4 linked regions of the Homo sapiens genome follow. The protein of the gene in region 3 interacts with the protein of the main gene of each other region in a pairwise test. Each region holds a gene or a part of one and is shown on either strand. Other genes may lie near its edges. The genes, in order: TMEM79, STOM, CYB5R3 and VMP1.

Evidence for each region.
Region 1: the proteins of CYB5R3 (region 3) and TMEM79 interact in binary tests that used the Homo sapiens proteins (3 or more experiments, as listed by UniProt).
Region 2: the proteins of CYB5R3 (region 3) and STOM interact in binary tests that used the Homo sapiens proteins (3 or more experiments, as listed by UniProt).
Region 4: the proteins of CYB5R3 (region 3) and VMP1 interact in binary tests that used the Homo sapiens proteins (3 or more experiments, as listed by UniProt).

What each region holds. Positions count from the first base shown.
Region 1 is NC_000001.11:156,280,174-156,287,324, forward strand, and holds the start of TMEM79 (transmembrane protein 79), read left to right. Parts: upstream 1-4,151; 5' UTR 4,152-4,233; intron 4,234-5,010; 5' UTR 5,011-5,053; coding exon 5,054-5,810; intron 5,811-6,086; coding exon 6,087-6,300; intron 6,301-6,459; exon of another isoform or gene 6,460-6,614; intron 6,615-7,151. Other genes in the region: nonsense-mediated mRNA decay factor SMG5, read right to left, coding at 2,434-2,507.
Region 2 is NC_000009.12:121,367,231-121,375,216, reverse strand, and holds the start of STOM (stomatin), read left to right. Parts: upstream 1-4,966; 5' UTR 4,967-5,029; coding exon 5,030-5,090; intron 5,091-5,250; exon of another isoform or gene 5,251-5,324; intron 5,325-7,986. UniProt on the Homo sapiens protein: Regulates ion channel activity and transmembrane ion transport. Regulates ASIC2 and ASIC3 channel activity.
Region 3 is NC_000022.11:42,639,382-42,646,408, reverse strand, and holds part of CYB5R3 (NADH-cytochrome b5 reductase 3), read left to right. Parts: intron 1-1,782; exon of another isoform or gene 1,783-1,899; coding exon of another isoform or gene 1,900-2,019; intron 2,020-5,807; exon of another isoform or gene 5,808-6,134; coding exon of another isoform or gene 6,135-6,437; exon of another isoform or gene 6,438-6,606; intron 6,607-7,027. Other genes in the region: ATP5MGL (ATP synthase subunit g 2, mitochondrial), read left to right, coding at 6,135-6,437. UniProt on the Homo sapiens protein: Catalyzes the reduction of two molecules of cytochrome b5 using NADH as the electron donor.
Region 4 is NC_000017.11:59,702,926-59,710,665, forward strand, and holds the start of VMP1 (vacuole membrane protein 1), read left to right. Parts: upstream 1-4,728; 5' UTR 4,729-4,823; exon of another isoform or gene 4,824-5,152; intron 5,153-7,740. UniProt on the Homo sapiens protein: Phospholipid scramblase involved in lipid homeostasis and membrane dynamics processes. Has phospholipid scramblase activity toward cholesterol and phosphatidylserine, as well as phosphatidylethanolamine and phosphatidylcholine.

The sequences.
Region 1 (7,151 bases), on a different chromosome or scaffold from region 3:
CCAAGAAGTCCCAGAGGTAGGTCTCATATCTGGAAGGGTAAAACCCAGAGGACATCAGGCAGGAGCTATAAGAACATGTGAATCAGGCACAACTGTGGACACAAAAGCAACAAAAACAGAGTGAAGATTCCCAAACAAACCAAGACGTGCTCCCGGGCCAGGAAAAGTGGGCCACAACAGTTGGCACCCTGTGGTGGTGGTGGCTCAGGAGGCACACTACTAAGCTGCCCTACACAGGGTGAAGTGACTGCCAGCACCCAGCAGAGTAGGTGGGATGGTAATCGATACCTTCTCACAAGCAATCATGTTTCTTCAAACTGGACAGCCTAGAGATGGATGCCAAGCCCTTTTGGCCAACCTGGCCCTCGATGCCAGGGGCAGCACCAGTGATTTACTTTATACCAGCTCAGTCCCTAGGGCAGGGCTTTTATCTTTGGTGCCATGGAAAGAGCTAATGGGAGTGTATATTTTTATAGACAAGCTCCACAGCTCTCCTTATATCCTTAATCCAAAAGAAGGTAAATAACCACCACTCTAGGAAGTTCTAATTGAAAACGCTTAAATATGAGAGGGCTCACCACTTTTTTCTCATTTTCCATCAGATCATAAGCTCCTCCACTAAACTATAATCTCTCTTAGAACAAAAACTACAAAATCTAGCCGTGTGTTTCATTCACTATTGTACTCTCGGGCCTAGCAAAAACAAAAATGTTTTTAAAAACAAATAACTAATGAATTGGCCTAATTAATTAATTGGTGCTTCCAGGCTCCTTTCTCCTGCTGCCCTTTCTTCTGACTTAAAATATTTCAGAATTTCATATCCGTAAACAGCTAGGTGTGAGAGTTCCCCAAATTTCTGAAGCTCAGAGTGACAAGTCCATAGTCTAACAACACATTTATCTTGAGCAGAGAAATCAGACTTTCCTCCTAGTTCCTTCCACTGATCACCACTGCTATAATAAATTATAAAAACAGTGATTGGCTGCCTCAAATTTCTACCCTGCTCAAAGCCAACAACACAATTACAGGCAGATACCCATGTGCACACAGGTAAGCCACACAGGCAAACACATCAGCTTAGGTTAGTCCTGTGAATGTAGTGGTTTAAGAAAGAACTACATTTGATGACAACTGGAAGGATGACCAGAGCCATCCCCAAAAGCTGGAGACAAGGAATATTGCAGACACTGCCCACGCTCTGTCTGACAGGCAGCACTGACACTCGGCAGCATGATAAGGCACACGTGCCACCCCCAGCCAACTCCTCACCCGCCTGGGGACTGCTTGGGGCAGCCCATAGTGGGAGCCCTGGGGCCGCTAGATTGAATCACTTTTCTATTTTTGGAGCAGCCTATACTCCCCTCTGCCTCTGGCTTACAAAGCCAGAGAAGGCAGGATGCCTACTCAAAGAGAAAAAGACAACATGCTCTTGACTCTTTCACCGCCAAAATGTGGCCAAGGCTCTGAGGGTCGTCTTCTCATGCAAATATCCGTGTTCTATAAAGCCTGAGCTAAATGAAAACCCCAAACTCTACTCTGTAGTAGAAGGCACAAAACTCAGTTTCCACGCTTCATCCTATTTTGACCCAGTTGCGGAGCCCATGTTCCAGTTGACCTACCCAACAAATTCTCCACCTTTGATGGGAAGAGCTCATTCGGGCCTGTTGCCAACAGAGGGCTGAAGGGCTGAAGATGTGACTTGTGGAGCGTGGGTGGCATTATGGAAATCAGAAACCAGGAACGGAAGTTGCCTGGCAAGAGACTACAGTCATGAGGCTGGGAGGAAGGCAGGACTCAGGAGTCCCCAGGTGCCCGGAATTGCCTCCCAAATCCCAAGAACGCTCTGGACACAAAAGTCGTTCGTGACCCTTCCAGGCCAAGACTTTCTCATTCGGACTCCTCAAAATTAGAGCCGTATGGGACTTTAGAGCACATCCAATTCAAATCGTTCTTTTTAAGGATAAGGAAACTGAGGCCCAAGGTCACACCGTGAGAGAGTGGCAAAGGATGGACCTGAACCTAGCTCCACGGACTTCAGTCCAAGACTCTTCCTTGTAAATCCCCCAGGATTCCAAGCACCGTTCCCTTCCGGGTTTTTCTACACCTGTGACCCCACCTTCACCTACCCAACCCTTCCAGCCTTCAATTCCCACCCTATTACCCCAACTCCACCAAGCTTAGTGCCCGCCCCAAGAAAGCTCACTGCAGAGGGGATTCCTCCACGTGCTTCCCTCCAAACCTCCCACCTACCCAATTCCTCCTTTCAGTTCCATCCCGAGTTACTACGGGACCCCGCCCCGCCTCCAAAATTGCACCCTCCTTCCTCACCCGCACCTCACCCCGACACCCGGGCCCCGCCCGCCCGGGAGGCCCCGCCCCTCGCCGTCTCCCCACTTCCCTCGGTGGCTGCTCTCACGCCCTGGCCCCTCTCACCGGTAAAGCCGCTTAGTGTGGAGGACTTTTGCTTCGGGCTCGCTGCTCTCCCCTGTGGGGGGGCCTTGGCTCATGGTGCCCGGGTCCGGGGGCAGCTCCCGGTCACAGGCCCCTGCCACCCACCACTACCGCCAACACTGCCGTCTCCGGCCGTAGCCGCAGCCGCCGCCGCCACCGGCCCTGCTCGGCCGCCATCGCTGTGAGGCGGCTGCCCGCGACAGCTCCTCCTCCGCCTGCCAAATCTCGCGATGGCAGCCGCACAGTTGCGGACCAGTGGCCTGCTGCTACCAAATCTCGCGAAACTCGTTTTCCCTCCCGGGAAGTTGCCAGAACTAACTCTGGGCAGCATGGCGTCTTTCCGGCTTCTCCAAACCCTTGCGAAAAACTTTATTGGCAAAGCTATCAGAGAACGGACAGTGTACCCACTGAGGCGGCCAAAGCTTAACTGGATCAGGGCAGGTGAGCTTACAGCTAGGAGCGTGACTGCTTTGTCCTACAATGGTCATTTGGTCCATCCTTCTGCCCCTTTCCCGCCTCCCCGTTTGAGCCAAGCCTCTTTCAGATTACTGGTTAGAGTGACTCCAGCTTTCCCTTTTCCCCCATAATTTAAACAAACAAAAAGTGCATGTGAAAGTTTCCTTGGAAAGGGCCGAGCATCACATAGGAGTAAAGCCCCGGAAGAAATGACTTGTACAAGCGTCTCGGCCCTTCAGCTCCCCTCCCAAAGATTTCCAGCTTGCATATCTATCTCTTACGAGCCAGTAACATTTATTGAACTGCCATCTTCCAGCCACAGTGCAAGATTCTAGACACACAGAGGTGAGCAAGCTAGACACTATCCCTGCCCTCCCAAAGCTCAAATGATTTTAGGGATAAGGACTCATAGAAATGAGAAGCTAGTCCCTAACGTTTCTATCTCCTAATCCTCACATTGGAAATCAGGGCAGGTGGGCTTACAGCTAGGAGCGTGACTGCTTTGTCTTGTTTTAGCTTAAAACCTAAGTTAAAAAGCAAGGGTGGTTTGTTTTGTTGTTGTTGTTTTTGCCTGTGTATGAATTGTAATGAGAACATAAATTGCCCTTCTACCACTATGCTCCTGGCTGCAGCCACCCACCTTCTTTCTGTTCCTGAAACAGCCTAAGTCTTTCCCATCCATTGGTCTTTCACTTGCTGTTCCTCTGTCTGTAACACTCATACTCCTGATTTCCCATCAGGTTTCAGCTCAAATATTACCTTACCAAAGAGGTCTTTCCTATTAAAATTGTCTAATTGATTTAGTTGCTAGGCTTCTTCATTATGTTACCCCAATAGAACATAAGCTTCTCAAGGGCAGAGACCTCAACTGTCATCTTGTTCTCTTCTGTGTCTGCCTAGCTAATAATTGGTGTCCAGTAAGTATTTACTGAATGAATAAGTGTACAAATTCCATTTCTGGGTATCCCAGCCTACTCCGAGCACCCTTTGTTGCACAAATCCACTTTTCTCCCTCTGCTTTCCTGAGCTGGGAGTTCTTACGCATTCCAGGTGCCTAGAATGTGAACTTACCCCTTTGCCCAGCTGCATCCCAACTTTCAGAAAGGATGACATCCTCCTCTGATGCTTTTTTTTGTCGGCAGATTCAGCAGGGCGGGGCCTGCCCCTTTAAGCTGGGCCCCACCTGCTCTGGTCAGACAGGTTTTGAGACACAGGTAAAGGGAGGGAGACAGAGAGAAATACTTGCAGAGCCAGCAGGTAGCTGGGCAGCTCCTTCCCGGACGGACGGATGGACAGACGCTGGGGACCCTCCACTCCATATGGAAAGTAAGAGGATGTCATGGGTCCAAACTGCAAGGTTTGGAGTGCCCTTGAGATAAAGGAAGGGAATCAGTCCCATCCAGAAGCAATGAGATGGAGGGCAGCAGGGAGGAGAGAAAGACAGGAGAGAAGGCATAGAAAACAGCCATGATCAGACCTAAATATCAGAATAGCAGACCCAGGCCCTGCAGAGATGGATGAGGTGGGCTAGTGAGGAGTTTGGGAACTGACCAAGTACCAGTGAAGGAAGAGGGTGCCTGGAACTGCCAGCTCTTTGGGTCAGATCAGTTGGCAAATCACTGGTCTCACTTGGAATGCAGGAGGGTTCCAAGCAGGGATGTGTAGGGATGGGACAGTGGAGAGGAAGCTTCTCTGTCTACAGCAAGATCCTCAGTGGGAAAGAAACTTGGCAAAGTTCTAGACACCTCTTCTGCCTCCTATTCCTGCATTAGAGTGGCCATGACTCCAGGGGTTTTGGTGGAGGGGCATAGAAGGCGTGGGTGGAGGCTGACTGAGTTCACAGCTGCCAGGGCCTGTGTCCCTTGACTCACCCTCTCCTGTTGGACGGCATTTGATGTCGAAAGGGTGCCTCCATTTCAGCTGCTCACTTCCTTCCCTCCTCCCTCTGTTTCAGTGTCTTCCTCTGTACCACGTTCTCCCTAAGGCTCCAGAAGGGGCCAAAACCCATGAAGCCAGTTGCCCTGGAGAGTATGAGTTCTGTCAACCTGTCCTAATAACTAGAAGACAGGGGTTTCTGACAGAGCTTTCCTCTGTTCCCTGCAGGATGACATGACCTTGTGGTAGATCCCAGAACTGAGGCCCCAGGATGACAGAACAGGAGACCCTGGCCCTACTGGAAGTGAAGAGGTCTGATTCCCCAGAGAAGAGCTCACCCCAGGCCTTGGTTCCCAATGGCCGGCAGCCAGAAGGGGAAGGTGGGGCCGAATCCCCGGGAGCTGAGTCCCTCAGAGTGGGGTCTTCAGCTGGATCTCCCACAGCCATAGAGGGGGCTGAGGATGGTCTAGACAGCACAGTAAGTGAGGCTGCCACCTTGCCCTGGGGGACTGGCCCTCAGCCCAGTGCTCCGTTCCCGGATCCCCCTGGCTGGCGGGACATTGAACCAGAGCCCCCTGAGTCAGAACCACTTACCAAGCTAGAGGAGCTGCCCGAAGACGATGCCAACCTGCTGCCTGAGAAAGCGGCCCGTGCCTTCGTGCCTATTGACCTACAGTGCATTGAGCGGCAGCCCCAAGAAGACCTTATCGTGCGCTGTGAGGCAGGCGAGGGCGAGTGCCGAACCTTCATGCCCCCCCGGGTCACCCACCCCGACCCCACTGAGCGCAAGTGGGCTGAGGCAGTGGTGAGGCCGCCTGGCTGTTCCTGTGGGGGCTGCGGGAGCTGTGGAGACCGTGAGTGGCTAAGGGCTGTGGCCTCCGTGGGAGCCGCACTCATTCTCTTCCCTTGCCTACTATACGGGGCATATGCCTTCCTGCCGTTTGATGTCCCACGGCTGCCCACCATGAGTTCCCGCCTGATCTACACACTGCGCTGCGGGGTCTTTGCCACCTTCCCCATTGTGCTGGGTGAGCCTGTGAGAAGAAAGGGGGCATCGGGAAGTGGACTTGAGGAGGGCAGGGCCTGGCTGGTGTGGGGAGCAGGAGGATTTCCCTTCACTTGACCTGGGCCCCTCAGGGTCTCCCACCCCCTGCCAGTCTGCATGCCCATCTCCTCCCAGGACCACCTCCACCCCACTGTGTAGAGCCCATGCACTGCCCACAGTGAATCTGCCCCCAGCTTACTGCCTCTTGTGCCCTTCCCCTGCCTTTTCTGACCCTACCCTGTTTCCCAACTCCACCCAGGGATCCTGGTGTACGGGCTGAGCCTGTTATGCTTTTCTGCCCTTCGGCCCTTTGGGGAGCCACGGCGGGAGGTGGAGATCCACCGGCGATATGTGGCCCAGTCGGTCCAGCTCTTTATTCTCTACTTCTTCAACCTGGCCGTGCTTTCCACTTACCTGCCCCAGGATACCCTCAAACTGCTCCCTCTGCTCACTGGTCTCTTTGCCGTCTCCCGGTAAGTTGGGGCAGAGGGTGGGGCATGGGAGAGGGGATGGTGCTAGAGAACCTAGGCATCTGAATGTCTGGAGAGCCAGGGTCAGGAGCTTTCCGGATTCTACACTGGCCCAAATGTGTGCCCTGGGGAGATAAGTCCACCTTCTCTCTTGCACCTTACCTCAGCTGGTCAGCAGATGGAAGCCGATTTCAGAGACATATATAACCATATGGAACAAGAAGGCTTTCAGGTGTCATCTAGATCAATGCACCCATTGCAGCCACTCCTGTGGCAATCTGGTCAGGTAGCTGTTTTGGTCTCTGGTTGAACACCCCCTGTAACCAAATGTACAACTTAAAAATAGATATATTTTTTCAAAATAGAGACAAGGCTGGGTGCAGTGGCTCATGCCTGTAATCTCAGCACTTTGAGAGGCCGAGGTGGCAGATCACTTGAGGTCAGGAGTTCGAGACCAGCCTGGCCAATATGGTGAAACCCTGTCTCTACTAAAAATACAAAAATTAGCTGGGCATGGTGGTGCACACCTGTAGTCCCAGCTACTGAGGAGGCTGAGGCAGGAGAATCGCTTGAGTCCAGGAGGTGGAGATTGCAGTGACACAAGATCGTGTCACTGTACTCTAGCCTGGACGACAGAGCTAGACTTCATCTCAAAAAAATAAATAGCCGGGTGTAGTGGCTCACGCCTGTAATCCCAGCACTTTGGGAGGCTGAGGTGGGTGGATCACAATGTCAGGAGCTCGAGACCAGCTTGGCCAACAAGGTGAAACCCCAGGTCTACTAAAAATACAAAAAATTAGCCGGGTGTGGTGGTGGGCATCTGTAATCCCAGCTATTCAGGAGGCGGAGGCAGG
Region 2 (7,986 bases), on a different chromosome or scaffold from region 3:
AGCTAAGAAGACAAAAACCTTGTTGTAATGCAATAAGTGTGAATTAATACATATTAAAAAAAAACAGATCAAATTTGTTAGTCCCATCCTAGAGAAAATGTCACAGACAGATGTAATTTGATGGTATTGCTGTTCTCTCAAGGTATTTAGTTAGCTGACTTCCATAAAAGCATCGAAAACATCCTGGATTAGCAATTTAAAGGAAAAAAAAAAGACTTTTCTATTGTTCTTATTAAAGCACTGCTATGGACACAGGAAAAAGGCTAATTAAATTTCCTTCTGTCTTATTCAATTACGGATTCATGGTGCATATCTGTCTTTAACCTGATCTCCAAGTCTTAATGTTATCACTATTACCATCAATCAATACTTAATTTGGTACCTTGAATATGCTAGGCAAATAACAGCAAAATAAAACATAAAGGAAATACGGAACGGCCAGGCGTGGTGGCTCACGCCAGTAATCCCAGCACTTTGGGAGGCCAAGGCAGGTGGATCACGAGGTTAGGAGATCGAGACCATCCTGGCTAACACAGTGAAACCCCGTCTCTACTAAAAATACAAAAAATTAGCCAGGCGTGGTGGCAGGTGCCTGTAGTCCCAGCTACTCGGGAGGCTGAGGCCGAAGAATTGCTTGAACCCAGGAGGCAGAGGTTGCAGTGAGTCGAGATCATGCCATTGCACTCCAGCCTGGGTGACAGAGCAACATTCCATCTAAAAAATAAAAAATAAAAATAAAAAATAAAGGAAATATGGAACATCTACTCTGATTTTCAAACTATATATAAGTATCCTTCAAATAACAACTAGAGGAAAAATTCACCAAAATTGTAATAGCAGTTTTGTTAGAGGTGATAAGAAATTCTCTCTTCAAAGTACTCACAATTTTATATGTCTCCATTTAAAAAGCATAATGTTATTTATTTATTTATTTTATTTTATTTTTTGAGATGGAATCTCACTCTGTTGCCTAAGCTGGAGTGCAGTGGCATGATCTCCGCTCACTGCAACCTCCGCCTCCCGGGTTCAAGCAATTCTCCTGCCTCAGCCTCCCAAGTAGCTGGGATTACAAGCATGCGCCACCATGCCCGGCTAATTTTTTGTATTTTCAGTAGAGGCGGGGTTTTACCATGTTGCCCAGGCTGGTCTCAAACTCCTGACCTCAAGTGATCTGCCTACCTCAGCCTCCCAAAGTTCTGGGATACAGGCATGAGCCACTGCGCCTGGCCATAAGGTTCTTTAAAAAAAATCATTCTAACTTCTAATCATTACTGGGAGAAAATTTAAGATTAAAAATCCTCCAAAAGGAGAAAGGGATGTACTAATATTTGTTTTTTTCTAATCTTAAGAGTGAGAAATTGATTTTTAAAGTACATTTAATCAATACATTTATAACAGAATATGCACGAGAAAGCCAGAATACACCAATTTCATGGGCAAGTGAGAGTAAGCATATTTAAATAAAAAATTGGAAACTCTATTCTAAAAGCAGTTTAAAAATCAAGTCAAAGCTTGTTCTTAGTTTAGGGCCAGGAATTAGTTTTAGAACTGATGCAATCTGAAACCAGAGCCAAGAAGTGTTTACCAAAGTCTTTACCCCAAAGGGAGACACTTCTAATTCTCCAGAAGGGACACTACACTGTTAAGATTGTCTTGAGACTTGGGCTTAGGTAACTGATAGGGGTACACATATTAAATTCATTTTGAAATACCATTTTCCTTTCCAACAAAAATGAAACCTAAATCCTTTTTCACAATATGCAATTTGTAATCAAGGCCTCCTCTACCGAAGGGTTTAATTAGTTTCTTGTGTATTTGCTCCTCTTTCCTGGGAATGACAGGATAAACGGGAAGTTTATGTCTCCAGGGCTTATTCGTTACAGAATGGAAAAATGAAGCTATGGACTTTCTCAAGGATGATTTAGAGAGAAGGGATCATTAAATTACTGTACTCCCCTCCTTATCTTCTCCAGAAGGCTAACAAAGTGACTGCACAAGCTGCACTCCATCCCAGGAATACAAACAGTTCTTGGCCAGTATTTGACTAAAAGTCAACTGCAAGCTCTGAGTCAGGTTTTGATCACACACTGGAGCCTGTTCCTGCAAGCAAAGATCATCTTAATGCCTCTCTTAACACCTGTTGTGTCTGCTCCCGTTTCCGTCCTGATAGTCACAAAGCTCCAGAGCTGTAAAATCAGAGAGAAAGTCTACCATTTCATATGACCTAAGCACCACAAGGTGTTGGGTAGTACACAGCCAAATATTGAGCACATTAAGAAAGAAGTGCTCCTCCTGAGGGAGATCTTTGTGGTAATGGAATAGTTCTGTATCAATTACTGTGGTTATATCAATCTACACATGTTAAAATGGCACAGAACTATAAATACATTTTGTGCCACTGTCAATTTCCTGGTTTTGATACTCTAGTTAAGTAAGACGTAACTATTGGGGGAAACTGGGTAAAGGGGACATGTGACCTCTCTGTACTGTTGTTGCAAATTCCTGTGAATCTGTACTTATTTCAAAATCGAATGTTTTTATAAGTGCACCTTGTGTACATTAACATACTTTGAACATTGTGCAATAGAACAAGTCTAATGCAAACACAGCCTACTTTCCAAATATGAGGTCTTCAGCCACACCCCAAGAGAAGGCCTGAGGTTGGGAATGCCCTTGCACATGCTTTTCCCTCTACCTGGGATACCCTTTCCCACCTCCTGCACCGCTTATTCCCCTTCCCCAGGCTGGCTCCTTCTCATTTCTCAGGCGACATCTCAAAGCCCCTTCCTTACAGAGGTGTTCCCCTGTCCTAACCTTTGCTGTTCTCCGAATATTCCACTCCTTTCACAGCTTCCTTCACCATGTGTAATGATTCAATTACTTGTTTGTGGCCCATCTCCCAACTAGAGTATAAGGTAAACTCCACGAGGCCCTTAGCACACTCCCTGCCACATGGAAGATGCTCCAAGAAGATTTTGTTTGAATAAATGACCCCACCGACTGAATGGACTCCCTTGTGGCCAAGGGGACTCCAGAAAACTTTAAAACTGAGTTCCCAGCCAATGACAGGACAGAAGGTCAGACTCGCCTCATTATAACTTCATCGTATTGGAGTTTAGACACAACAGCTGACCAGCATTAACGTTAAAACACAGATCATAAGACTGACAGAACAGACTGTTTGTGACAATAAGATACCAAATTATAAACAAATTATACCTAAGGTCATGCCAGGCAAAGGTTAAGGCACACATCCCTTCACTTAGAGAATAAACTGTGTTCTAACTGCCACAAGGTTGTTCTCTTTCTCTAGCAGCTTAACAAGCACTGGCCTCGAGATAAGCAATATTAAAACAATTTGCAGCTCCACCAGATGTGGCCTAATGGAACCCCTATTCCACCAGCCATCATTACAGCTTTAATTGGACAAGAGGCTGATTTCAGTAACTTTCTCCTCATAGGAAAACTACCGACCATGGACTGGCTCTGGCTAGTTTACACAGACTGCATACTTGCACACCTTCCTGTCCTGAAAAGACCTTTTGACGCATGGGGTCTAACTGTAATACATGTATTGTTATTATTTTTTAGAGTCCATCAGGCTGGAGTGCAGTGATCTGATCATACATCACTGCAGCCTCCAACTCTTGGGCTCAAGTGATCCTCCTGCCCCAGCCTCCTGACTAGTTGGGACCGCAAGCACACACCACCCCACCTGGCTATTTTTTTTTTACTTTTTGTAGAGATGGGGACGTCACCATGCAGGCCAGGCATTTAACATTTAATTGGTAACTCTTCACTCCAAAATGAACATGGGTTGTATGTTACATGCATGTTTGCTCAATGGGCATGCGTCAGGACCACCCTCATGAATATTCATAGCTCCTCCTGTCACCTGCTGAATATGCATGTCTACCCAAGCTGTTCAGCATAAAGCCGCTACTCCAACCCCTCCTCCAACGAAATGCCTGTCTCTGGTCCTGGCCATTCTCCAGCCTGCGGAATGGCCACCTTGCAGGCTGTAACCCCTTACAAGAAATAAAGTCTCCTCTCCTGTTTTTTTGTTTTTTGTTTTGTTTTTTTGAGACGGAGTCTCGCTCTGTCACCCAGGCCATCTCGGCTCACTGCAACCTCTGCCTCCCAAGTTCAAGCGATTCTCCTGCCTCAGCCTCCCAAGTAGCTGGGATTACAGGCGCGCGCCACACGCCCGGCTAATTTTTGTATTTTTAGCAGAGACGGGGTTTCACCATGTTGGCCAAGCTGGTCTCGAACTTCTAACCTCAGATGATCTACCCGCCTCGGCCTTCCAACGTGCTGGGATTACAGGCGTGAGCCACCGCGCCCGGCCTCCTCTCCTTTTCCAAATTTATACATTTTGATTTTCTTAACACACCTCACTCGAGTTCGTTCACTTCGGCTGCGGCGTGATCTGCCGGCCCTCTCAGCTCAGGCTGACCTCAGCGCCCTCACTTCGGCCACTTCTGTGTCCCTCAGTCTTCTCCCCTCAACTCGGACCTCGCGCCCTCATGACAGGGCGCCATTTTCTTCCCTCTAACTCCTCAGCCCAGAGGAGGCGCCTTGGTCCCGTACCTCTGCCCGGCAAGGCGACTTTTCTTCACTTGCACTTTTGCCTCGGGTCATCCTCTGCTGCTACCTCCCCACTATCCTCACCATCTGCTCCACGTCCCGTGGCTTCCGCCCTCCCTTCCGGTGCAGGGCCCCGGCCTCATACCCACAGCCTTGGGGGCTCTCGCCCCTCAGGCCACGCCCCTCAGGCCACGCCCCTCAGCCCACAGAACTAGCGGGAAGTGACTGCGAAGCAGTCGCGCCGTGGAGGGACAGGAGGGCGGGGATTGGGAGGTGGGTCCTCCTCGATCCTGGGCGTTGATTGGCCAACTCTCACGAGGGCGGGACCTCGATTGGGGGCGGGGCGGCAATCTGGGTCTTGTGCCTCTGGCTCCTCAGGGCATTCCCGGCGGCTCCGGGTTTGGCAACGAGGACGGGGGAGTGCGACTGCGTCTCGGGCAGCATGGCCGAGAAGCGGCACACACGGGACTCCGAAGCCCAGCGGCTCCCCGACTCCTTCAAGGGTGAGTCCCGCGTCCCCTGACCCTCCCCCGTGGACCGAGCCCCCGCCCGCAGCGTGCGCTCCGAGGTCTGACAGCCGGGCTCCTGGCCAGTCTCCGCTGCTTCGGGCTGGGCGAGATCTCAAAGCCGCGGCTCCTCCCTAGTAAACTGAGCATCACGAACCCTGTTTGGCAGACTGAGGTCACGATGGAGGGGTGGCGGGCTGCCAACGGCACGTTTCCCATCGCACGGGCCCTGGTTATCTCGCGGCCGCCAGATGCCAAGCCCCATGCCAGGGCTGCACTATCTCGTGTCACGCACGCGGACTAGGAAACGCAGAGGGAACTGGCAGCCAGCGAGGCGGGGACCGGGACCCCACATCTCACCCTTTGCCCACTCCCCTTCTTTCCCGACTCACTCTCTCGAAGGCCGCCTCCTCCACCCAGCCCTGGCCTGGCCCCAGGGTGAACCCCCTCCTCCCCCAATCCCACCTCCCGAAACTTAGACCGATTTGCAGAAGGAAGAAGTCTCTCTGGCTTTCTTCTTACCTCTCTTTCTAGCTCCACTTTCTGCCCCATTTTTCCCCCTCCGCTTTCCTCTGCGTTTTGGAGAACTCTCCTTCCCGGCTTTTGTTCCTCGCCAGGAACCCTGAGTTCTCCCACCCTCACCCCCACCCTCCCTTCCCAGTCTTCAAGGCAGGAGCTGTAAGTGGCTCAGTCTCGTTCCCCTGTGGAGGAACTGGTACTCTGGGGAGGGGGTTCCAATAAAGAGAGATGGTGGACCTCTCAGGAGTCCTGGTACCCACTCAGGAGCTCTTAGTGATCCAGAGGAATTACAGTGTTTCTAAAGATGGAATTTCAGGCAGGATGGCAGTGAAAGCAATTTAGAGGGCTGGGTGGTCCTTTCCAGGACCCCTCAAAGAACATGACATTGGAGTCATCTATTCTGATTATTTGTAAAGCCAGCTTTATCCACAGCATCTTAGCTATAAGTTCCATTTCCCTTGTCCAGGGATCCCTGTGTTCAGTTCCTTCCCAGGAGCATCAAAGGAATTACAGAAATCTTTATTCCTCACTTTTTGTCTACTAATAACGTTGCAGGTTATCTTCCCAAATGGAGAGTGTAACAGGGAGGAGTTGATGAGAATAATGGCAACCACAACAACAAAAATTGAAACTAAATAGGTCAGGCTCCGTATCACTTTTTTTTTTTTTTTTGAGACGGAGTTTCGCTTTTCTTGCCCAGGCTGGAGTGTGATCTCCGCTCACTGCAACCTCCGCCTCCCGAGTTCAAGTGATTCTCCTGCCTCATCCTCCCAAGTAGCTGGGATTACAGGCGTGCACCACCATGCCCAGCTGATTTTGTATTTTTTGTAGATACAGGGTTTCACCATGTTGGTCAGGCTGGTCTCAAACTCCTGACCTCAAGTGATCCACACGCCTCGGCCTCCCAAAGTGCTGGGATTACAGGCATGAGCCACCGCGACCCCCCCAGTGCCACGTATTTTATGTATATATTATTTTATTGAATCTTCACAACAGATGATGTGGTAGGTATTCTTATCCCCATATTATACTTGATGAAACTGATAGTCAAAGAAGTTAAATTACTTAAAGTCACTTAGTTTGTATTTAAATCTAGATTTGACTGATTCTAAAACTTGAATAGGGAAAAAATGGGTGGTAACTGCCTCTTCGATAGTTAGTTGTCTTTTCCTAGATAAAAAGGTGGGTATTAGCATGCATTCCTCAATACCCTGACCTCCTGGTGGGAAACTGCAGTGGCAAATCTGCTTGGAGTTCTTTGAGAATCAACATGATCTTTGTACTTAATGTTTATTTACAGACAAGTGGTCATAGATGAGTTTTTAACTTCCAGTTTTTTTCCTTGGTTCTACACTTAACTACTGTTTAGACAGAAATCTTTCAAGATCTAATGAAAACCACCACTTCCTCTCAAAAATTAGACATACAAATAAAATTTTGCATAGTCTGTGTTTTTTTAATGTAAACCTAACAAATTTGACGCTACTAGGAAAGGTATTGCTGGAATTTATTAAATAGAGGTTATTGAATGCTTTCCCTGTGCCAAAAGACAGTTTAAGTGCTTTACAAACATTATCTAATTGCATTCTGTAACAGCTCTACAAGGAAAAAGTCATTATTCACCATTTCACAATAAGGATACTGCGGCTCACATGGCAAAATCACAGTTTCTAAAATTTTCAGCCCTGTTTCAAACCCCGGCTATCTGATTTTCTGAATCATTTTCCCTATCCCAGAGATGGATACCAAAATGTAGAACCTTGTCTAACTTCAGTACTTTACTTAAGTTGAGAGACAATAAACAAAAAAAGCCTGGAGGAACACAGCTTCAGTGATGACTTCCAGAAGGCTGCTTGTGAAAGAAGCAGTGGAATTTTAAAAGCCTAAACTCTGCCTCTTTGTCTTTACTGAGAATTAGTCCTAGGTAGGTAAATAGCACCAGGCCTAGGGCAAGACTAGTTTTTCTTAAAGGCGATGCATTCACTTTGTAATGAAATAATGCAAGTAATTGCAAAGAATGTATCACTGTAATTAAGAGCCATGTCAACAAATAAAACCCTTTGGGAGACTGATTGTTTATTTCAGTTGTTATAGCCAATCAGATTGGAGAGAACTTTGTAACTTCTTCAATAATTAATCTGAGTTATTCCATCAGTGGTCATAAATTAACTTATGGAAGACCAAGTCTACAAAACTGGCATATTTATTCATGATTAAATAGATTTTTGGTGCCATTTGATGGTATAAATTTTACCTAGTAAAAGACAGTCACTGATTCCTAGTCATCTTTGAGGGAAAAAAAAGATGTTGATAAAGTGATACAGATGGAATTCAAAATCAGTTTTTTTAAGAAGGCATGGAAAAGCAATTTCCT
Region 3 (7,027 bases):
GCTGGGGGCTCCCTGGGACTCTGGCACCCTGTGTCCCTCTTCCCCTCTGTGTTATTAGAGGCAAGGAGAGGCGGGTGATGGGTTCCCTGGTGGGGCAGAGCATGGCTTGTGGGCATTAGGTCAGGGGCTGGGAGGCAGCTGTCTCCTGGGCCCCCAGGTGGCTGGGGTGAGGTGGTCTGTGTGTGTGAGTGTGTGTGTGAGTGTGCACGCAGCACAGGTGAGGAGGCACAGGGGTGGGACCTTGGCCTCAGCCACCTGCCTTCTGTTTACTTGGCCCACTGCTGGTGAGGGTTGGGGTGGTGCTGTGGACGAGGACGGGGCAGAGCCTGTTCCAACCCGTGTGGGTAGGAAGAGAGTGCACCCCACCGTGTGAGTCTGGCAGGGCCTCTGGCTTTCTGGAGGTGAAACCTTCGCCCCTCCACTGCTCCTGGCTGTGGTGCGCCCTCTCTGCCGGTGTCTGTCTCCCCGTCTGGCTTGAACTCGGGCGGGGCCTCCTGGCCTGTGTCCCCTGCGTTGCACATGGGACCTGCCACCTCAGTGCCCACTGGGGTTTGTGGACTAAACGACTGACCGACGGTGATGGTCTGCCTGTGGCTGCCTCCCCAGATAAGAACTTTTACCTATAAAAAGCCCACCCCTTCTCTTTAGTGGCCAGAAAGTGTCCCCGGGCTCAAGTCTGTCCCCTGAGGCTTGGTTTCCTCACCTGAAGTGGGAGGAGTCATGAACAGGCTTGAGGACTGAATGAGGTGGCGTGAGCAGAGGCTGCCCGCCTGGCTCCGGGCAGCCCCTGTTGTTGGGAGCAGACACTGGAAGGAAGGTCCTTGACTCTCATCTGCTGCCCACGGCGAGCCTGGCCTTCTGAGCAGTGCTTGACTCCCAGCTCAGCCACGGGAGCTGCGTATGTCCTCTCTGAGTGTGGAACAGGCGTGGAAACAGCCTGGAGCCGGATCCTAAGCCCACCTCTGAGGCCTGTGCTCTTGGAGGACAAGCGGGCTTTTCTGACAAACAGGACAGGCTGTGCCGCGCCCTCATCCAGGAGTCTGGGCTCTTGTCCTGGTTCTGGAAACTTCTAGGCAAAATAAAAACACTGGGAGGGTGGGAGCCTGTTGTCCCTTCACTAATTCATTCCACAAATATTTGTTGAGTGCTTTCTGTGTGGAGTGTTGGGGATACAGTGGTGACGACAGACACAGATCCTGCGGTCTGCTCCAGGGCCACTTCTGGAGACTTGTGGGGAGCCGGCAGCCTGGGGTTGGAGGCCAGCATTCGGGGACTTGCCATCGGAGCCACTAATACGCGGGTGTCTTTTTCTTGGCCCAGCGCCCACCCAGGCTCACTTCCATGGGTTTAGGTTTAGGGCAAGGGAGGGAAGTGGGAAAGCAACAGAAAATCAGAAACCAGGCTCCACCCTGGGCCTCCTTGAGCTACATTTGTCCCCTCATTGTCACACGGGGAGCCTGGTTGTTCCCACCTTGCACCACTGTGGGAGGGCCGGGGAGGAAATGGGGGAAGGTGCCTCGCAGCCCGTGAAGCCAGCTGCCCGCGGAGGGGCCTTAAGCTGGGCTGTGCACTGACGCAGCTGTGCTGGAAAAACAGAACTCCAGGGAGCACCAAGCACAACCCCAGCTCCTAATGTCATTCAAGTTCATTGCCAGGGCCCCCAACAATGGTGATTTCCTGTGAATGTAACTTCGGCCAACTTTTTCCCTAGACTCTATTCCACGTGGGCGTGGTTTCTGTGACTGAGGGAGAGGTCGATAGCAGAGGAATCCTCGGAATAGTACTTGCCCCAGGGAGTTTCCAGAAGGGACCAGGGGCTGTGAAAAGTCTACCAAGGGCCTGGTTAGCTAGGGAAGGGCTCATCAGGGAAGATTTGATGTTTGAGCTAGGCTCTGAGGAATGAATAGGAGTTTGCTGGTTGGATGCATGCAGAGCAAGGACATTTGGGGCAGAGAGGAGAGCATATGCGAACGCCTGAAGCAAGATGGGCTTGATGTTGAAAGAGCAGAGAGCTGGGAGGTGAGTCCAGAGTTGGGGCCATAGAGAGGGTGCCTTCAGGTAGGCAGTGGGGAGCTATGGTGGGTATTTGAGGAGGGGTGGAGCCGCCTGTTGGTTCGGACCCCCGGGGCTGGGGGCAGGTGCTCAGGCCTCACTGTGGGAGGCAGGATGTCAGATTTGGGCTGTGAGCTCTTTGACTGGAGCAGAAAGAGTGCCCCTGTCCTGGGAGGTGGCTCAGGAAGAGCAGCACTTTGGGCTGGACATTGAGAGTCCACTCCCGGCCCACCCTGAATGGCTATATGACCTTGGCAGGTCACTTCATCTATCTGAGGGATAGATAACAGTGTCATGTGGTGAGCGATGCTTGGAGGGCTGGCTTTGGTGTACTCCGGGCAGGTCACTCCCCTTTCCTGGCCTCAGTTTCCTCACGTGCTGGGATGATCACAGTGCCCGCAGCCTAGGGTTGAGGTGGGGAGTATTCCAGGAAACCCGCGGCCCCTACTCAGAACAGTGCCAGCTCAGGGGCGCTGACCGCTGTGTGCCTCCTTCCTCCCCACCCTCCCCATCCTCCAGGTAGGGCCCGGGGAAGTGAAGCGACTCTCCTGCCATCCTTAGCTGGGACTCAAACCCTGGTCTCTCTGACCCAAGTCCACAGCTGCCAACTGGGGCCTTAAAGGAGGCCTGGGATGAGTGAAACACCTGGGCCATGCTGATTAAATGGGTGGTGGCCAGAGACCCCAGCTGGGTGGCCCTGGGCATGGGTGAGGGGTGGGCTAGGCATCCACAGCCCTTCCTTTAGACCCATGGGTCAAATACCAAGGGCCCCATGGAGCGAGGCCTCAGCTGCACCCAGCATGGAGGCCCTGCCTGGGAGAGAGGCCTTTTGTTTTAAGCCCAACAAAGGACCTGTAACTGTAGCTGGGCAGCTTGGAGCTGCTGGGCCGTTGCAGGGTGGGGGGTGGGGGGGCGGGGGCCAGGCCTGGTGTGAGGTTGTAGCACCCTGCCCTTCCTTCACTTGGCTATTCCACTCCTCTCAGTTGGTAGTGGCCCCGTGAGGGTGGCAGGAAAAGCTCCTGTGTGTGAGCCGGGACTTCCCAGGTTATAGACCCCTACGTGACCTGGGCCCCAGCTCATCTCATCTCACATCGCTTCAAGGAGATAGGCCAGGCAGTGGCCCTCGCTTTTTACAGACAGGACACGTGGCTCCACCAGAGCGTCCTCCTCAAATTGTTGGAGAGTAGGGACTCCTGGTAGTGTTTCCAGAAGGGGAGGGGCAATGGGGCTAGGCCTTGAGAGGTTAGGAGCATCTTACCTGGCTCTGAATAGAGCAGAGGCACTTGTCTGTGTTCTGCAGGATATACTACCTCAAGGGGCCCGTAGCAGGTCCCACAAAGCAAGTAGAGAGGCCTGCACGCATGCAAGGAACTTGTTTCTCAGCTTCCTGGCACTCAAAGTGAAAAGGGAACTTGTAGGGTAATGATAAGAGAACACACATGCACATTTGCTGGGAGAACTACAATCAGGGAGGTATATGGGGAGGGTGTATAAACAAGCTCTGAAACAGCTTTCTTGAGAGCCAGTGTTTTATATGAACTTTGGCTTCTCAGCCTCTCTAGTTGAACTACCAGTATGGGCTTCACACACTTTTTATTTTGAAATAATTTCAAATTACTGGCCGGGCGAGGTGGCTCACGCCTGTAATCCCAGCACTTTGGGAGGCTGAGGCGGGCGGATCACGAGGTCAGGAGATCGAGACCATCCTGGCTAACGCAGTGAAACCCCGTCTCTACTAAAAATACCAAAAATTAACTGGGCTTGGTGGCGAACGCCTGTAGTCCCAGCTACTCGGGAGGCTGAGGCAGGAGAATGGTGTGAACCCAGGAGGCAGAGCTTGCAGTGAGCTGAGATCGTGCCACTGCACTCCAGCCTGGGCAACAGAGCGAGACTCCATCTCAAAAAAAATAATAATTTCAAAGTTACTGTAAAAGAACATTTATGGGCTGGACGCAGGGGCTTATACCTGCAATCCTAGAACTTGGAAGGCTGAGGCTGGCTGTTGGCTTGAGCTCAGAAGTTTGAGATTAGCCTGGGCAACATGGTGAAACCGCATCTCTACAAAAAATACAAAAAAATTACCAAGGCCTGGTGGTACGTGCCTGTAGCCCCAGTTACTTCGGGGACTGGGCTGGGAGGATTGCTTGGGTACAAGAGGTCAAGGCTATAGTGAGCTGAGATCACGCCACTGCATTCCAGCCTGGGTGATAGAGTGAAACCCTGTCTCAAAAAAAAAAAAAGAGCTCTTATGTACTCTTCACCCAGATGTACCTAATGTTATTATTTGCTACATTTGCTTTATTTCTCTCTATACAGTATATATCTAATGTATGTTAAATATATTAGATACTACATGTGTGCATATCCATACAGTGGACCCTTGAATGGTATGGGGGTTAGGGGCTGACCTGTATAGTTGACAGTCCACGTATAGGCTGGGTGCAGTGGCTCATGCCTGTAATCCCAGTACTGTGGGAGGCTGAGGCGGGTGGATCACTTGAGGTCAGGAGTTCGATGAGACCAGCCTGGCCAATGAGAAAAAACCCCGGCTCTACTAAAAATACAAAAATTGGCCAGGCGCTGTGGCTCATGTCTGTAATCCCAGCACTTTGGGAGGCCAAGGCAGGCAGATCACCTGAGGTCAGAAGTTCGAGACCAGCCTGGCCAACATGATGAAAACTCGTCTCTACTAATGATACAAAAATTAACTGGGTGTGGTGGTGGGCGCCTGTAATCCCACCCACTTGGGATGCTGAGGCAGGAGAATCGATTGAACCCGGGAGGTGGAGGTTGCTGTGAGTTGAGATCTCACCACTGCACTCCAGCCTGGGTGACAGAGCCAGACTCCATCTCAAAAAAACAAAACAAAACAGAAAATAAAAATTAGCCAAGTGTGGTGGCGTGCGCCTGTAATCCCAGCTACTTGGGAGGTTGAGGCAGGAGAATCGCTGGAGCCCAGAAGGCGGAGGTTGGAGTGAGACAAGATCGCGCCACTGCATTCCAGCCTGGGCCAGATCTGTCTTAAATAAAAGAAAAAAAAAAGAAAATCCATGTATAACTTCTGGTTCCCCCAAAACTTTCCTACTAATATACTATTGACTAGAAGCCTTACCAATAACATATTTGTATATTGTATGTATTATATACTATATTTTTACAGTAAAGTAAGCTAGAGAAAACTGTTATTTTAAAAATCATAAGGGGCCGGGCGTGGTGGCTCACGCCTGTAACCCCAGCACTTTGGGAGGCCGAGGCAGGAGGATCACCAGGTCAGGACTTCAAGACCAGCCTGGCCAACATGGTGAAACCCTGTCTCTACTAAAAATACAAAAATGAGCCAGGAGTGGTGACGTGCGCCTGTGATCCCAGCTACTCGGGAGGCTGAGACAGAAGAATTGCTTCAACCTGGGAGTTGGAGGTTGCAGTGAGCTGAGACCGTGCCACTGCACTCCAGCCTGGGTGACAGCAAGACTCCGTCTCAAAAAATAAATAAAGAGAAAAAAAAATCATAAGGAAGAGAAAACATATTTACTATTCATTAAGAGGAAGTGGATCATCATAAAGGTCTTCATCCTTGTTCTCACGTTGAGAAGGCTGAGGAGGAGGCAGGGGGTAGTCTTGCTGTCTCGGGTGACAGAAGAGGAAGAAGATCCTTGTATAAGTGAACCACTCAGGGTCCTGGCCGGGCACAGTGGCTCACGCCTGTAATCCCAGCACTTTGGGAGGCCGAGGTGGGTGGATCATGAGGTCAGGAGTTCAAGACCAGCCTGGCCAACATGGCGAAACATTGTCTCTACTAAAAGTACAAAAATTAGCCAGACGTGGTGGTGCTCACCTGTAATCCCAGCTACTCGGGAGGCTGAGGCAGGAAAATCACTTGAACCCGGGAGGCGGAGGTCACAGTTAGCCAAGATCACACCACTGTACTCCAGCCTGGGTGATAGAGTGAGACTCCATCTCAAATAAATAAATAAATAAATAAATAAATAAATAAATAAATAAATAAGTGAACCACGCAGGGTCCTTCCGGGGGGTGACCTTCAGCTGGCCATTCGGGATGATGGACTTTCCATCCCAGAACCATGGCTCCATTTGTCCGTAACCTTGTGGAGAAGACCCCAGCACTGGTGAATGCTGCTGTGACTTACTTGAAGCCTCGATTGGCCGCATTTTGGTACTACACCACGGTTGAGCTGGTTCCTCCCACCCCTGCTGAGATCCCTAGAGCTATTCAGAGCCTGAAAAAAATAGTCAGTAGTGCTCAGACTGGTAGCTTCAAACAGCTCACAGTTAAGGAAGCTTTGCTGAACGGTTTGGTGGCCACTGAGGTGTCGACGTGGTTTTATGTCAGAGAGATCACAGGCAAGCGTGGCATCATTGGCTAGAATGTTTGAAGACCAGTCTTAACATCTGATTATATTTGATTTATTATTTGAGTGTTGTTGGACCAGGTGTGATCAGACTGCTATCTGAATAAAATAAGATTTGTCAGAAATTCCAAAAAAAAAAAAAAGTGAATCAAGCAGTTCCAACCCATGTTCAAGGGTCAACTGTGTCTATATTTTGAACCATTTAAGAGTAAGTTGCCCCTTTGCCCCTAAATATTTCAGTGTGTATCTCCTAAGAACAAGGACATTCCTTTGCGTAACCACAGAATAATTACAGGAAAGTAACATTGGTACAACACTATTATCTAATCCACAAGCCTTATTCAATTTTTTTTTTTTGAGATGGAGTCTTGGCTCTTGTCACCCAGGCTGGAGTCCAGTGGCATGATCTCGGCTCACTGCAACCTCTGCCTCCTGGGTTCAAGTGATTCTCATGCCTCAGCATCCTGAGTAGCTGGGATTGCAGACGCCCGCTACCATACCTGGCTAATTTTTGTATTTTTGGTAGAGACGCGGTTTTTCCATGTTGTCCAGGCTGGTCTCCAACTCCTGACCTCAGGTGATTCACCTGCCTCGGCCTCCCAAAG
Region 4 (7,740 bases), on a different chromosome or scaffold from region 3:
TAATAAATTAAGTGTTCTGAGCACCTTTAAGGTAGGCTAGGCTAAACTACCATGTTTGGTAGGTTAGGTGTATTAAATTTATTTCCAACTTCTATTTCCTTTTCTAAGAGACAGGGTTTCACTCTTTTGTCCAGGCTGGAATACAGTGGAGTGATCATAGCTCACTGCAGCCTCGAACTCCTGAGCTCAAGCAATCCTCCCACTTCAACCTCCCCAGTAGCTGGGACTACAAGCACATACCACCACACACTGCTAATTTAAAAAAAAACTTTTTTTTTTAAGACACAGGGGTTTCATTATGTTGCCCAGGCTGGTCTCGAACTCTGGGCCTCATATGATCCCTCCCACCTCAGCCTCCCATGTAGCTACATTTACAGGCATGAGCCACTGTGCCTGGCTCTCAATTTATGGTACTTTCAATTTATGATGGGTTTATCAGGATATAACCCCACCCTAAGTTGAGAAGCATCTATATATAATTATGATCCCCATTTTTCGGATGTAGAAAAATGAGGTACACAAGTTATAGCTTGCCTAAATTCACCCAGCTCATAAGTGGTCGTCTTAATCCAGAGCCCTTGTTCTTTTTTCTTTTTGAGACAGAGTCTTGTTCTTGTCTCCCATGCTGGAGTGCAATGGCACAATCTCGGCTCACTGCAACCTCTGCCTCCTGGGTTCAAGTGATTCTCCTGCCTCAGCCTCCCAAATAGCTGGGATTACAGACACCCGCCACTACACCGAGCTAATTGTTTGTATTTTTAGTAGAGACGGGGTTTCACCAGGTTGGCCAGGCTGGTCTCAAACTCCTGATCTCAGGTGATCCAGCCACCTCGGCCTCCCAAAGTGCTGGGATTACGGGCGTGAGCCACCATGCCCTGCCGAGCCCTTGTTCTTTTTTTTGGAGACGGAGTCTCACTCTATTGCCAGGCTGGAGTGCAGTGGTGCAATCTTGGTTCACTGCAACCTCCACCTCTGGGGTTCAAGTGCTTCTCCTGCCTCAGCCTCCCAAGTAGGTGGGACTTCAGGCATGTGCTACCACACCCGGCTAATTTTTGTATTTTTAGTAGAGATGGGGTTTCACCATGTTGGCCAGGCTAGTCTCGAGCTCCTGACCTCAGGTGATCCACCCACCTCGACCTCCCAAAGTGCTGGGATTGCAGGCGTGAGCCACCATGCCCTGCCGAGCCCTTGTTCTTAACATTACTATATCAGGCCTCTCCCAGCAGTCTAGATGAGATGATGGTCATTTAGACAACAGTAGTGGGAATGAGAAATAAAAAAAGTGTCTAAGGTACACCTGTCTGATTTAGTGACTGACAGGAAGTCTGGTGGCAAAAGAAAGGGAGAAGTTAATAATGACAGCTAGATTTGAACAAATGGAGAATTTTGGTGAAATACCAGGTTTGAATGGAAAAGATAATGAATTAGTTTTGTTCTGAACAAAAGACATCTCAGAGATATCTAGAAAGAAGAAAAAAAAGGATATATCAGCTTAAAGGACAGAAAGGTCTAGGATATATCAGTTTAAAGTCAGAAAGGTCTGGGCTGGAAATATAGATTTGAGAGACCTTACCATATAATTGAAGTTACTGAAGAGATGGAAGAGTATGAGGCCACTTGGACAAATATGTAGAATGAAGAAAGGACTAAAACATAATCCTGAGGAAATGAACATTAGGAATCAAAGGAGACTGACATGGAGTGGCCAGGAGTAGGAGGGTCACATAGGGTAAGCTGTAGTGCACCTAGTTTCAGTGCTCTTCCACTCAAGTGCCTAAATACGGTGACAGGGCTGCACAGACATAGTATTTATGGTTCTAGTGCCTTTACAGCCCCCACCCCCTAAAAGAGACAAAGACAGAGAATTCTTTTTTTTTTCTTAAGACGGCATCTCACTTTGTCACCCAGGCTGGAGTGCAGTGGCGCCATCTCAGCTCACTGCAACCTCTGCCTCCGGGTTCAAGCAATTCTCCCGCCTCAGCCTCCCACGTACATGGGATTACAGGCACCCGCCACCACACCTGGCTAATTTTTGTATTTTTAGTAGAGACGGGGTTTCACCATGTTGGCCAGGCTGGTCTCGAACTCCTGACCTCAAGTGATCTGCCTGCCTCAGCCTCCCAAAGTGCTGGGATACAGGCATGGGCCACCATGCCTGGCCAAGTTTCTATTTGATGCTTACATATCAGCAGGACTTTTCTTTGATAATCTAACAACCAGACTCCAAACTGAACAAATATGCAATGTCAGCAATTAGGATTCTCTGAAATAATTTCTAGGCTGCAAAGTAACCAAATATCCCATACACTACATTCCGGTACTATCTGGAGAAGGAACTGCTCTACATAGAGAAGCTATTATGTGCTGGATAACATACTAAATCCTTTATATCCATTACCTCATTTATTGTTGCTATGAACACATAAAAAGGAAGATATATTAGCCTCATTTTAAAGATGAGAAATATGAGGATCAAACAGAGAAGTTGCCTTTTTCTTTATTTTTTTTTAAAGAGAAGGGGTCTCCCTCTGTCACCCAGGCTAGAGTTCAGTGGCATGATCATAGCTCGCTACAGCCTCAAACTCCTGGGCTTAAGCAATTCTCCTACCTCAGCCTTCCAAGTAGATGGGACTACAGGTGCATGCCACCACACCCTCCTGATTTTTTAAAAATTTTTTATTTTTGTATGGACTTGGTCTTGCTATGTTGCCCAGGCTGGTCTGGAACTCCTGGCCTCAAGGAGTTGCTTGAGGTCGAGGCAGCAGCATCTCGAGTCCAGTTCAAAACCAATCTGGGCAACCCAGTGAGACCTCATCTTTACAAAAAATTTAAATAATTAGCCAGATGTGGTGCCACATGCCCATACTCCCAGCTACTCAGGGGATAAGGTAGGAGGACACCTCAGGCTGGGAGGTGGAAATTGCAGTGAGCCATGATCGTGCCACTGCACCCCAGGCTGGACAACAATGCAAAACCCTGTCTCCAAAAAAAAAAAAAAACCCAATAAGATCAAAAACAGGACAGTGAAAGTTCCAAAAGTTACCAAGTTTATTTATTATGTCCCATATCTCAATGGAGTGTCTAATCATAAAAATGCTAAAATTAACACATATTTTTGTTCTTTAGGATGTTCTAATCTCATATTAATCTGATCAGATTATCATCTAACTCCTCTAAAACAACATGTCTGTCTCTTTTTCTGTACACTTACGACAAGCGTATCAATAAGCCTAGTGCCTAAGACTAAGGTAAAACAAATAACCATTCTTTGTCTCATAAATAATTCTGGGCAATGACAGCAGAACAAAATAAGTACATCCTATAAAATCTTCTTCTTGGTGCCTTCTAATTCCCCTGCCTCAGTAAACCCATTTCAGTAGTGCTCTTGATCCCATTACCTCCTTCTGCACCATGCTCCACCCGTTAATCTTTTTTTAAGAGACAGGGTCTCACTATGTGGCCCCCTATGTGGCCCAGGCTGTTCTCAAACTCCTGGGCTCAAGCAATCCTCCTGTCTCAGCCTCCCAAAGTGTTGGATTACAGGCTGAGCCACCGCGCCGGGTCTGCAGTTTACAACCGAAAAAAACAAACAAACCTTTCCCAAATCTTCTCTGACCCTTAAGCCACTGCCCCACTTTCCCTGTATAACATATTCCCAGAGTCTAGTATGGTGCCTGGGGTATGTCAGTAAGGATTAATACCTCTCTAGTTAATCTCTTTGTGTGAAAAAGGGGGGAAATTTTTTCTTTCTTTTTTTTTTTTTTCTGAGACGAAGTCTCACTCTGTCGCCCAGGCTGGAGAGCAATGGAGCGATATCGGCTCACTGCAACCTCCGCCTCCCGAGTTCAAGTCATTCTCCTGCCTCAGCCTCCCGAGTAGCTGGGATTACAGGCACGCGCCACCACGCCGGCTAATTTTTGTATTTTTAGTATAGATGGGTTTTCGCCATGTTGGCCAGGATGGTCTCGAACTTCTGACCTCAGGTGATCCGCCCACATCAGCCTCCCAAAGTGCTGGGATTACAGGCGTCAGCCACCGCGCCCGGCCCCAAATTTTCGACTATATTCTTAGAAACCAATTCTTTCCACGCAGAGCTCGACAGCTCGAAACGCTGGGGATATTCATAAGTGCCCAGCTGAGGGTATGAGGCCTGCTCGCTATTTTATCAATTTCGGAGAGAGCGCATCGATACTGCCTGCCTGGAGGCTTTGCTGGGAACTAGAAATTCTGAGTCTTCCCCTCCCCAGCAGCCTGTTCCTTTCCTCCAAAGGACGGTTCGCAGAACAGGAACAGAGGGCTCAGCGGCCCCTGGGCGGAAGACAGTTTATAAAGGAGAAAATGAAGAAGGTGGGTAATGCAACGAGGTGAAAAGAAACGTTCCTACTGGCGAGAAAATGAATAATGATATTGGTCTCCTTCGCCCTGTAAGGAGCCAACCAACCTACCTACAGTACCTCCTTTCCTCACTCGCGCCTTCCCTTCTTCTGGGCAGCGAACACGTTTCTATCGCGTGAGCTACCTCTTCCGGGGTTCCTGGGTGACAAGTTCCGGATCAAGAATCACAAAGCGAGCAGTCATTCTTCCTCTTGCCACACCCACAGGGCCCGCACTAAGAGCCTAACTGAAATCCCGCGAGGATCAACCGAGCTCGCCGAAAGGAGGGAGGAACGTATCCCTTCTGGAGGCTGTCTCAGGGGGCAGAGGGACCGGACCGGAAGTGACGTGAGCGGGTTCCGGTTGTCTGGAGCCCAGCGGCGGGTGTGAGAGTCCGTAAGGAGCAGCTTCCAGGATCCTGAGATCCGGAGCAGCCGGGGTCGGAGCGGGTAGGTAAACTAACTCAGGGAATTGGGGACCGAAGCCTGAGGCTGTCCTCAGAGCTTGGCGTCTTCCGGAGCTCTCCCACTTAGGCATTGCGGATCTGGGGCACTGTGATTCCGACTTCCAGCAGTGTTTTAGGACGCTGCTGACTGGATGTCTCACCCTGGATGTCTCACGCTGGCGGTAGCCAGGTTATTTGGGACACCTTCTCATGGTTGGTCACCCGGACATTGAACCCAGACACCGGGCTGTTCGTTCTCCTCTCCGCGTACTTGGAAGCCTTGCTAGGCTTCTTTAGAGAACCTCTTAGTCCCGGGATGTCCAGGACCTTGGAGTAAGTGGAGAAGGTCTTCCCTGCTGATGACTGAGCTATTTCTCAGGATCTGTCAGTTTGGTTTTTGCTCTCCCGAACCTCTGGCGCATGATGCTAGATGTATTCGCTCCTAAACGAAATCCAGGCGTGCAAGTGCCATCTAAAGCTCTGGTGGTACAGGGTAGCCAAGGGAATGGGCCTTCGCTCCGCAGAGCCCTTGGAGAGGAACTTCTCAGATTTTTCACTGCTTTAATGAAAAAGAGTTGTCTGCCTTTCCAAACCCCTGAACCCCGACCTCTATATCTTATTACAGTGGAGGTATTTGCAGTAAAACGTGAAGGTCGACTTAATCTCTAAAATTCCAGAAACCATATGTGGCCCTGTGTCACACTGCTAGATTACTTATGACCTCCAGAAGATTTTACACAATCATCTTTTATTTACCTGCAACTCCATGTAAAAATCTAATAATACACGTAGACTGGCCACTGTTGATGTGTTTTGGCAGCATCGCTCCTTATCCTAATGTTAACGTCTTTCATTTCTACTTTGGGGCTTGTCAGAGATTTTTGTGGACAGATTACATTGATCATTTGAAGAAGCTTGTACAAGTGTTTCTGGTGTTGTCATGATAGAATTTAATATTCCAGTTGCTACTACCTAGTAATTGTATTGTCATTAGCTCTGATTTTAGTTGTGTATTCTTAGCATAGATGATGAAAGGAAGAAACTTACTTACTAGGCATCATTGTATGCATTGTAGCTTATGTTTTTACTGTGGAAGAGGGATGGTGGTACCTAGACAAATGTGACTGATTTGTGTAGGTATGAAGTGACTCTCTCGAGTAGAAATTTTATATTTTACTACTTTGCCTACATTATCTTAAGGCACTGAAGGTTACTTTTTTCCTTTGAGGGATATATCCTACTTGATTACAATTGATTAATACAGTTTAATTTCTATGAGTCACATTCCAGAAGAAAATATACATAGAACCATGATGCCTTTTACCAGTTTACCTATAGCTAGTTAAATCAGTTTGTCAGTTTACATATTTTTCTTATTTTGAGTTTGAAAATTTGTTCACGCTTGGCTTTGAAACAAGGTGACAAAATTTGAGATATGGAATTATGATAGATGTATCATTAGTTTAACATTCGGTAAATTTGCTTCTTGATTATATAACTGCCAAATCTGATCTTATCTTCTTTATGTTCAATTGAAGGACTGATTATCCAGTTTTTCTCACTTTTCCAACTTCTCGCTTTTGGCTTGAATCACCACTTTTTAGGATTTTGGTAACTATTAAACTTTAAATCAGAAGACCTGGATTGAAGTCTGGGCTCCAACACTTGTTAAGTAATGGCTGATAGGTTACCTAACATTCTGAGCTGGTCTAGATTGTGTTGATAAAAATTCTGCTCACTTTCTTTCATACAACTGTCACAAAGATTAAATGAGCTAGTAAACATGAAATTATTAAATATGAAAATATGGTATCACTTTACTCTTAGAACTGGAGATATGTCAGTGTAGAATACTGTTACTTTGCATCATTATCTGAAAATATTATCACATACTTTTCTGAGATGATCTTTGCCCCACCTTTGAAAGTTAGCAAAGAATAGTTTGATACCGTGATCCATTGAATTAGTCACCATGGTTAATAAATAGGTTCCTGGAAAATGAGTATAGTTTTGCATTCGGGAGTTTAAATCTGATCCTTTTTGGTCGTCATGTATTGTCACTTCAGAACTTCCAAGTGCAGAAAAAGCTGAAGTTTTTTGCCTACGTATAGTTAACTAAAGAGTAGAAGTAGTCCTATCTTACTTACATTAAATAAGAAACCTTATTATTGGGCCGGGCGCGGTGGTTCACGCTTGTAATCCCAGCACTTTGGGAGGCCGAGTTGGGCGGATCACGAGGTCAGGCGATCGAGACAATCCTGGCTAATACAGTGAAACCCTGTCTCTACTAAAAATACAAAAAATTAGCCGGGCGTGGTGGCAGGCGCCTGTAATCCCAGCTACTCCGGAGGCTGAGGCAGGAGAATGGCGCGAACCCAGGAGGCGGAGCTTGCAGTGAGCCGAGATTGCGCCACTGCACTCCAGCCTGGGAGACAGAGCCAGACTCCGTCTCAAAAAAAAAAGAAACATTATTATTTCACTGAAACCAATATTTAGAATTAGAAGGAATCTCTGTGAATGTATAAGTAGATTCCCATTTAACAGAGGAGAAAATTAAGGCTCAGAAACAATCAGTAATTAGTAATTGGCTTGCTTGAGGTCATCTGGCTTAGGTAGTGCTAGAACCTGAACTGTAAGGTCTCAAGTGTTCTTTCTGTTCTAACAAGGTTGTATCCAGGCATCTTATTATGGTTTGGTAATATTTCCAAGTTCACATGAAAATAATTACTCTTAGGTATTAAAGGGATCTATCCACATACACACGTAAATACACACATACGCACATAAGCCTTATTTACAAACTTTTTTTCCCTCTTTAGCTAGTTTAGTCTTATAAATTGTAGCATAACAAAAACTGTGCTTGGCTAGATTTGAAGTGTAATAGATTAAGGAAAGAAAATCAGTTATATTCTTCAGAATAG